Homo sapiens: one gene and its partner. The protein of the gene in region 1 interacts with the protein of each later gene in a biochemical or structural test. Each region holds a gene or a part of one and is shown on either strand. Other genes may lie near its edges. The genes, in order: TNFRSF10C and CXCL14.

Region 1 (3,826 bases):
ATATACAGCTTTCAATGTTTGTATTAAAAAACTGGGGGTTAGGGAGATGGGGAGTTACTGCTGAAGGGTATGTAGTTCCTTTCTGGAGTGATAAAAATATTCTAAAATTGATTATAGTGATGATTGCATAGCTATGAGTATATTAAAAACTGCTGAAGTGTGGACTTTAAATGGGTGAATTATATGAATAATCATAATTATTAATTATGTGAATTGTGTCTCACTAAAGCTGTCAAAAAAAGAAAAAACGTGAAAATTATGGGCCGGGCACGGTGGCTCACATCTGTAATTCCAGCACTTTGGGAGGCCGAGGAGGGTGGATCACGAGGTCAGAAAATCGAGACCATCCTGGCTAACACGGTGAAACCCTGTCTCTACTAAAAATACAAAAAATTAGCCAGGCGTGGTGGCGGGCACCTGTAGTCCCAGTTACTTGGGAGGCTGAGGCAGGAGAATAGCATGAACCTGGGAGGTGGAGCTTGCAGTGAGCCGAGATTGTGCCACTGCACTCCGGCCTGGGAGACAGCGAGACTCCATCTCAAAAAAAAAAAAGAAAAAGAAAAAGAAAATTATGGCCTGAGGAGCTACATTAATCAATCATAAAATATAAGTGTAAATTTAAACCAAACAAAGTAACAGGAAGGAGCATAAATCAAAGAATACAAACCACAGAAAGAACTGAGAAAACCAACTGTGTGCGGTGGCTTACGCCTGTAATCCCAGTACTTTGGGAGGCCCAGGCAGGCAGATCACTTGAGCTCAGGAGTTAAACCACTCTGGGCAACATGGCGAAACCCCAGCTCTACAAAATATGTGAAAATTAGATGGGCGTTGTGGCACACACCTGTCTTTGGGGACTGAGGTGGCAGGACCACTTGAGCCTGGGAGGCAGAGGAGGCAAAGGTTGTAGTGAACCGAGATTACACCACTGCACTCTGCGCTCCAACATGGAGGACAGAGGGAGACCCTGTCTCCAAAAAAAAAAAAAAAAAAAAAAAAAAGACAAAATGAAAAGTTGGTCTTCTGAAAGGATTTTAAAAAACACTAATAAACCCCTCATTAAATGAGAGGGAGTAAGAGTGTGAGAGCAGAGAAAGGAGACGCAGACATCGCCTGAACCTAGAGGGACTCCAACCCGGGAAAGAATGATTTGGGAAAAGTGGGTTAGCTTCACTGTCACCAACTGCTAGTCAGGCTTTGATGTGGAAGAAAGCTACATTTTGTCTTGTTTAGATCCAGGCAGTTGAACTGAGCCCAACATAAGCAGCTTTCATTGTAACCATTTTGGTTTTGCTTAAATTAATTTCCTACTTTAAAACACTCCCAACTTAAAGAAAAGTTACAAAAACTATACAATAAAAACATTTGAAAAAATGGCTGTTGGCATGATGAAAGCTATTATTGAATTCTTTAGTGTGTACTTTCTACAAACAAGGAAATTAACATCAACACATTACCACTATCTATCCGCACTCTATTCCGATTTCTCCAGTTGTCTTCTAGTTGTCATTTATAACATAGAGATCATGGCCAGAATCCCTGAATTGCTGTTTCATCTTTTTTGTCACTCTTTGATATTTAGTGGGAGCAGCTTGACAAGGTCCTTTGTAAAGCAGTAATTAATTACTTAATGTTTGATGCTATATCCTGACTTTCTGTAAGGTTATATATATTATAACCTTCATTTGTAAAGCTGAGTATGTTTAAGTGTGTGTCTGTGTGTATTTGTGTGTGTGTGAGTGAGAGACAGAATTCACCTATTGGTCAATTAAACACTTGGTGAAACTAAATATATTAAATGCTATTTCTGCATGAAGGGCTCATATGTGTGTGGTTTTTTAAAATTCTTATAAAATCTTTTCTTTCCAACCATGGTGGCATGTGCCTCTTATCCACATTTCTTGGGAGACTGAAGCAGGAGGATCACTTCAGGCCAGGAGTTCAAGCCTATAGTAAGATATGATCACACCTGTGAATAGCCACTGCATTCCAGCCTGGGCAACATAGCAAGACTCTGTATCAAAAAAACAAAATAGCTCTTCTTGCTCCCATTATCTGGGGTAAATTTATGTTATAATATGAGAAAAGGATACATAAGTGTTTTTCTTTTTCTTTTCATTTTTTCTTTTTTTTTTTTATTTGAGATGGAGTCTCGCACTGTCACCACATTGGAGTGCAATGGCGCGATCTTGGCTCACTGCAACCTCTGCCTCTCAGGTTCAAGCTATTCTCCTGCCTCAGCCTCCTGAGTAGCTGGGATTACAGGTGTGTGCCACCACACCCAGCTAATTTTTGTATTTTTAGTAGAGACAGGGTTTCACCGTGTTGGCCAGGATGGTCTCGATCTCTTGACCTTGTGATCCACCTGCCTCAGACTTCCACATTGCTGGGATTACAAGCTTGAGCCATCGCGCTTGCCTGTATTTTTTTTTTTTTTTATAGAAAATAGCTGGCCCTAACAGGCCAAGGGACAAACACAGGTATGAAAGAATGAAAGTTTGGAGCTGGAAAAAATGTCCAAGCTCTGATGGGTTTTGTCACTTGGGGTGAAGGGAATGTGAGATGGAGCCTGGGAGGGGTGAGGTCTGGAAGTCACTCACACCCATCACTCCTTTGTCCCCACAGGTCCTAGCTTACTCTGCCACCACTGCCCGGCAGGAGGAAGTTCCCCAGCAGACAGTGGCCCCACAGCAACAGAGGCACAGCTTCAAGGGGGAGGAGTGTCCAGCAGGTGCACTCTTATTTTTAAAAATCAGTTTATTTTTAATTGACAGATAAACATTGTATGTATTTATGATGTACACCATGATGTTTTGAAATATGTACGCATTGTGGAATGGCTAAATCAAGCTAATTCACATACTTAATCATGTATTCGTGGTAAGAACACTTAAAAATCTGCTCAGCAATTTTCAGCTGTATGGATACAGAGCCCTGGGATAAGCCCTCTTTGCCCTTTTTATCTGTGGGTTCTGTAGCCTTCCTTATCTATGGGTTCTGTATCCATGGTTGCAACAAACCACAGATCAAAAATATGCGGAAGAAATAAAAATGATAATACATCAATAAAAGCAGATAAAAAGCAATGCAGTATAGCACTTATTTACATAGCATGTCTATTGCATTAGGTATTACAAGTAATCTAGAGATGATTTAAAGCATATGTGCGTGGGTTTTATGCAATACTATCCCAATTTATATCAGGGACTTGAGTATATGCAGAGTTTGTTCCATGGAATATATTCCCTGTGGATAGAAGGCAGGACTGTACAACACATTGTTTTAATAACTGTAGTCGCCATGTCACACAATACATCTCTTGAATTTATTCTCCCTGTCTAACTGAAATTTTGTATCCTTTGACTAACATCTCCCCATCCCACCATCCAACTCAAGCCCTGGTAATCACCATTCTGCTCTCCACCTCTATGAGACCAACTTTTTCTGATTCCACATATGTGAGATCATGAGGTGTTTGCCTTTCTGTGCCTGGCTTATTTCACTTAGCATAGTATCCTCCAGCTTCATCCATGCTGACACAAATGACAGAACTCCCTTCTTTTTAAAGGCTGAATAGTATTCCATTGTATCTATGTGTCACATTTTCTTTAACTTTTCATCCATCCATGGACACGTAGGTTGATTCCATGTCTTGACCATTGTAAATAATGCTCCAATGCATATGGGAGGGAAGATATCTCTTCAATATACTGACGTCATTTCCTTTGGATGTATACCCAATAGTGGGATTGCTAGATCATATAGTTGTTCTATTTTTTGTTTTTTGAGGAACCTCCATACTGTTTTCCATAATGGCTGTACTAAT
Region 2 (3,232 bases), on another chromosome or scaffold:
AGGACTTCAAACACTTCCTTTATCACTGTTCTATGTTCATTAAGATATTTTCAACTTGTTTCAGGGGAGGGAGGTGGGGAGGGCAGGGACCTCAACACTCTAAGAAAGAGGGGTGAACTAATTTTATAGCAAAGTGAGAGAAGGCCTGGTAGTGAGAGGCTCTCGTTGCTTTTGTTATTGGAATTTTCAGGAAAAAAAAAAGCAGGGCCATGTTTAGACCTGTGGGTGCCTCCTTTTCCAGGCTGCAGCTCAGGTGGAGGGGAGAAGCAAGGTGAGCTAAAGGTTTGAGTATCCCCCAGCAATCAGATCAAGATGCCCTCAGCCTCTTCCATAACCTGCCCATGGGATTAGCCTTCTGCCAGTTTTGATGACACAGGGCCTGGAGGGTGACAGAGTGTGGACTGCGCAGTTCTGGCCTTTGCCACATGAGCTGCCTGGCTTGACCAGAAAGAGGGCTTCATTCCCAGCAGATTTATAGAAAATAATTTATTGCTCTCATCACTTTCTATTTCAAGCAACTGCAGATGAGGCTGTTTTGGAGGCAGCAAAAAAGGCTCAGGTATAGGGGTTGAGCCCGAGTGTCAGCTCTGGGAGAGCTGGTCACAGGGCTGAGCTTGGGGTAGCATGGCTGGGCCAGGTGAGGGGAGGGCAATGCAGGCACCCACTATGGCTGTACCTTCCACCCTGTGAGGGCAGCTGGTGGGGTAGCACCAGGAGGCCTGGTTTGCTGTCCTGGCTTTGCCCTGTGCTCCCAGGCAAGTCACCCCTCTCTTCCATTTAGCCTTGATATCCCCCTCTGCAGCAGGGGTGCTGGCACTAGTTCCTGGGGAAGTCACCTGCATGGTGTGTGCATGCATGCGTGTGTGTGTGTGTGTGTGTGTGTGTGTGTGTGCTTCCTGATCATGCTATGCAGGCAAATGTGTAAACAGACTCTGCGTATCTGAGGAGTGAGACAGGACAGGCTACCTTCGCATGGTACAGGGGAGCTAGGAACTGGATTCTCCCTCCGAGGACAGACATAAGACCCCAGGAAACCAGAGATGGGAAGCCACCTTCTGATTTTAAGGAAACAGTGCCCAGTAAGTACAGGGCTGGTTCAGGGTGCTGGTGGTCTTAACACTGCTGCCCGCCTTGGTTAACAGTGGCTCTGATTTTAAAGAGCCAAACCTGTGGTGCCTTCCAGCACCTGCGAAGGAAGGAGTTTATCAGGTTTCTGGGCAGCAGAGGGAGTGGGGCACCTTGGAGAAGAAAACATGTTTCTGGCAAGGATCATCCTCAGCACCTCATGGTTTTATAGCGCAGTTTTATAGCCAACATACACAGTCACCTAAGTGGTCACATTTCACCCCACTGAAGTCCTCAGAGCTCCCCTGGCAGCCATGCCAGTGCTCACTCTGCCATTTAACAACTTACGTAACTGAAATAAAAAGAGGAATTAAGATTATAATGCAAATATTAGAGTGAGACAGACTTTAGTTTACAAAATGACAAACCTGCCATGCTTGCAAATGGACAAGAGATGGATAGCTAGCTTTGGTAAGTGGTGAGTTCCTTGTCCCTGGGGGTATGTAAGCATTGTCTGAGTATCTGTTTGCTGTGGATGTTGTGGTGGGTGTTCACATATTAGATGGGGCTAGATGACCTGGTGGGGGGGTCCCTTCCCATCCTGAGAGCCACAGCTGGGTCTGGTGGGAAGGAAGGTGAGTAGAGGCGGGGCGTACCTGCGCTTCTCGTTCCAGGCGTTGTACCACTTGATGAAGCGCTTGGTGCTCTGCAGCTTGGGGTGCAGGCAGTGCTCCTGACCTCGGTACCTGGACACGCTCTTGGTGGTGATGCTGAAACGGAGCAGGATGAGGTGGAGGGTTGAGGAGCCTGAATAACATGTTGCCTCTTGTGTGGCCTGTGAGTAGCCCTGGGCTAAGTCAGGGCCCTGAGAGACTGTGGCTTCCTGCCTCCTCTCAAGGGAGCCGACTTGTGTGCTCACTTCCAAGCTGGCTCTTTGGAAGGTTCTGGTTGTCCCCTTATTCTCTGACTCCATGTTAGGGCCTAACCCTGTATGTAGTGAGCAGCCCTCACTTTTCCCCTGGGAGTCCTGAGAGTCTGGGATGGTCTCTCCCACCCCCAACCTCATGCAGTGTGTTGTCTCCAGGGCTCAGGCCTCTTTTGGGGAACAAAGGTCAGAGGACTCCCAGCCTCTCTGAGCCTGGGATCAGGAGGTGGAGAAAGCTAATGCCAGCAAGGTGCACATGCCAAAACCTCTGTCCTTGGATTTGAGGAGCTCATGGCAAGGCTCAGACATGCCCCGCAGACACTCTGATTTCTGTCTCCTCAACCCCAGTTCCCTCTGACCCACCACAGATTGTCCCAGGGCTGGGCATCTCCTGATCCTGAGGCAAAGTCTTGTTGGCCTTGTGGGAGGTCCCAGGTATCTCACCCCTAAGCAGAAGAGTAAGACCTCTCTTCTGCACAGCCTGAAGATCTCAGGCCTCTATCAGCCAATGTCCCAACACCCAGCAGAAGCCTAGCCATGTGGTAGAGAAGCAGGTGTTGTGCAGACTGTAAGGGCCTGGGACTGAATCTCAAATTTGGCTGTGGGACCTTGGGTAACCTCTCTGAATCCAGTTTGGCCATCTGTAAAATGGGTATAATAATAGGACTATCTCACAGGGTTATTGGGATGATTAAAAGATACAATCTTTAGAAAGTACCCAGGACCTGGTAGATGCACAATTAACAGTTACTGTTACTAGTCATTGGTCATGGAAGATGAAGTGGCCAAGGGGAAAGAGTAGCCTTGCTGTGGGGGCTCCAGCCTGGAGGGCGAGGCAAGCCTGCTGCTCAGAACTTCTGAGCACCTCTAGGCCACAGGCATGACAGGAGTTGTGGGGAATAAGAGACCACCTAGGGTATTTGGAAAAGTGCAAGGTGAGAGGTGAGGATGCCACTTCTTGAGGGGTCACAGCCATGCAAGCCATGATGGTAGACTGGGGTGCTGGAATGGGCTTGGAGGGCAAAGGGGGAGACTGGAAGTGAGAGTGGAAAGAGTGAGAAGAGAGGGACAGAGGTCAGCTAGTTCCCCACTGTTAACCAAATGGAAAATGTCATGGCTTATATGGGCTAAGTTCTAGAAGGGACAGGATTCCCATTACTTCAGTCTCCCAGTTGATGGGGAAAGAAAATCGGATCTTGCCACCAGAATGGGGGCATAATGTTCCTAGGCAACCTGTTCTCT

Evidence for each region.
Region 2: the proteins of TNFRSF10C (region 1) and CXCL14 form a complex in vitro, tested with the Homo sapiens proteins (one large-scale study listed by BioGRID).

What each region holds. Positions count from the first base shown.
Region 1 is NC_000008.11:23,109,095-23,112,920, forward strand, and holds part of TNFRSF10C (tumor necrosis factor receptor superfamily member 10C precursor), read left to right. Parts: intron 1-2,625; coding exon 2,626-2,731; intron 2,732-3,826. UniProt on the Homo sapiens protein: Receptor for the cytotoxic ligand TRAIL. Lacks a cytoplasmic death domain and hence is not capable of inducing apoptosis. May protect cells against TRAIL mediated apoptosis by competing with TRAIL-R1 and R2 for binding to the ligand.
Region 2 is NC_000005.10:135,572,851-135,576,082, forward strand, and holds part of CXCL14 (C-X-C motif chemokine 14 precursor), read right to left. Parts: intron 1,836-3,232; coding exon 1,722-1,835; intron 1-1,721. UniProt on the Homo sapiens protein: Potent chemoattractant for neutrophils, and weaker for dendritic cells. Not chemotactic for T-cells, B-cells, monocytes, natural killer cells or granulocytes. Does not inhibit proliferation of myeloid progenitors in colony formation assays.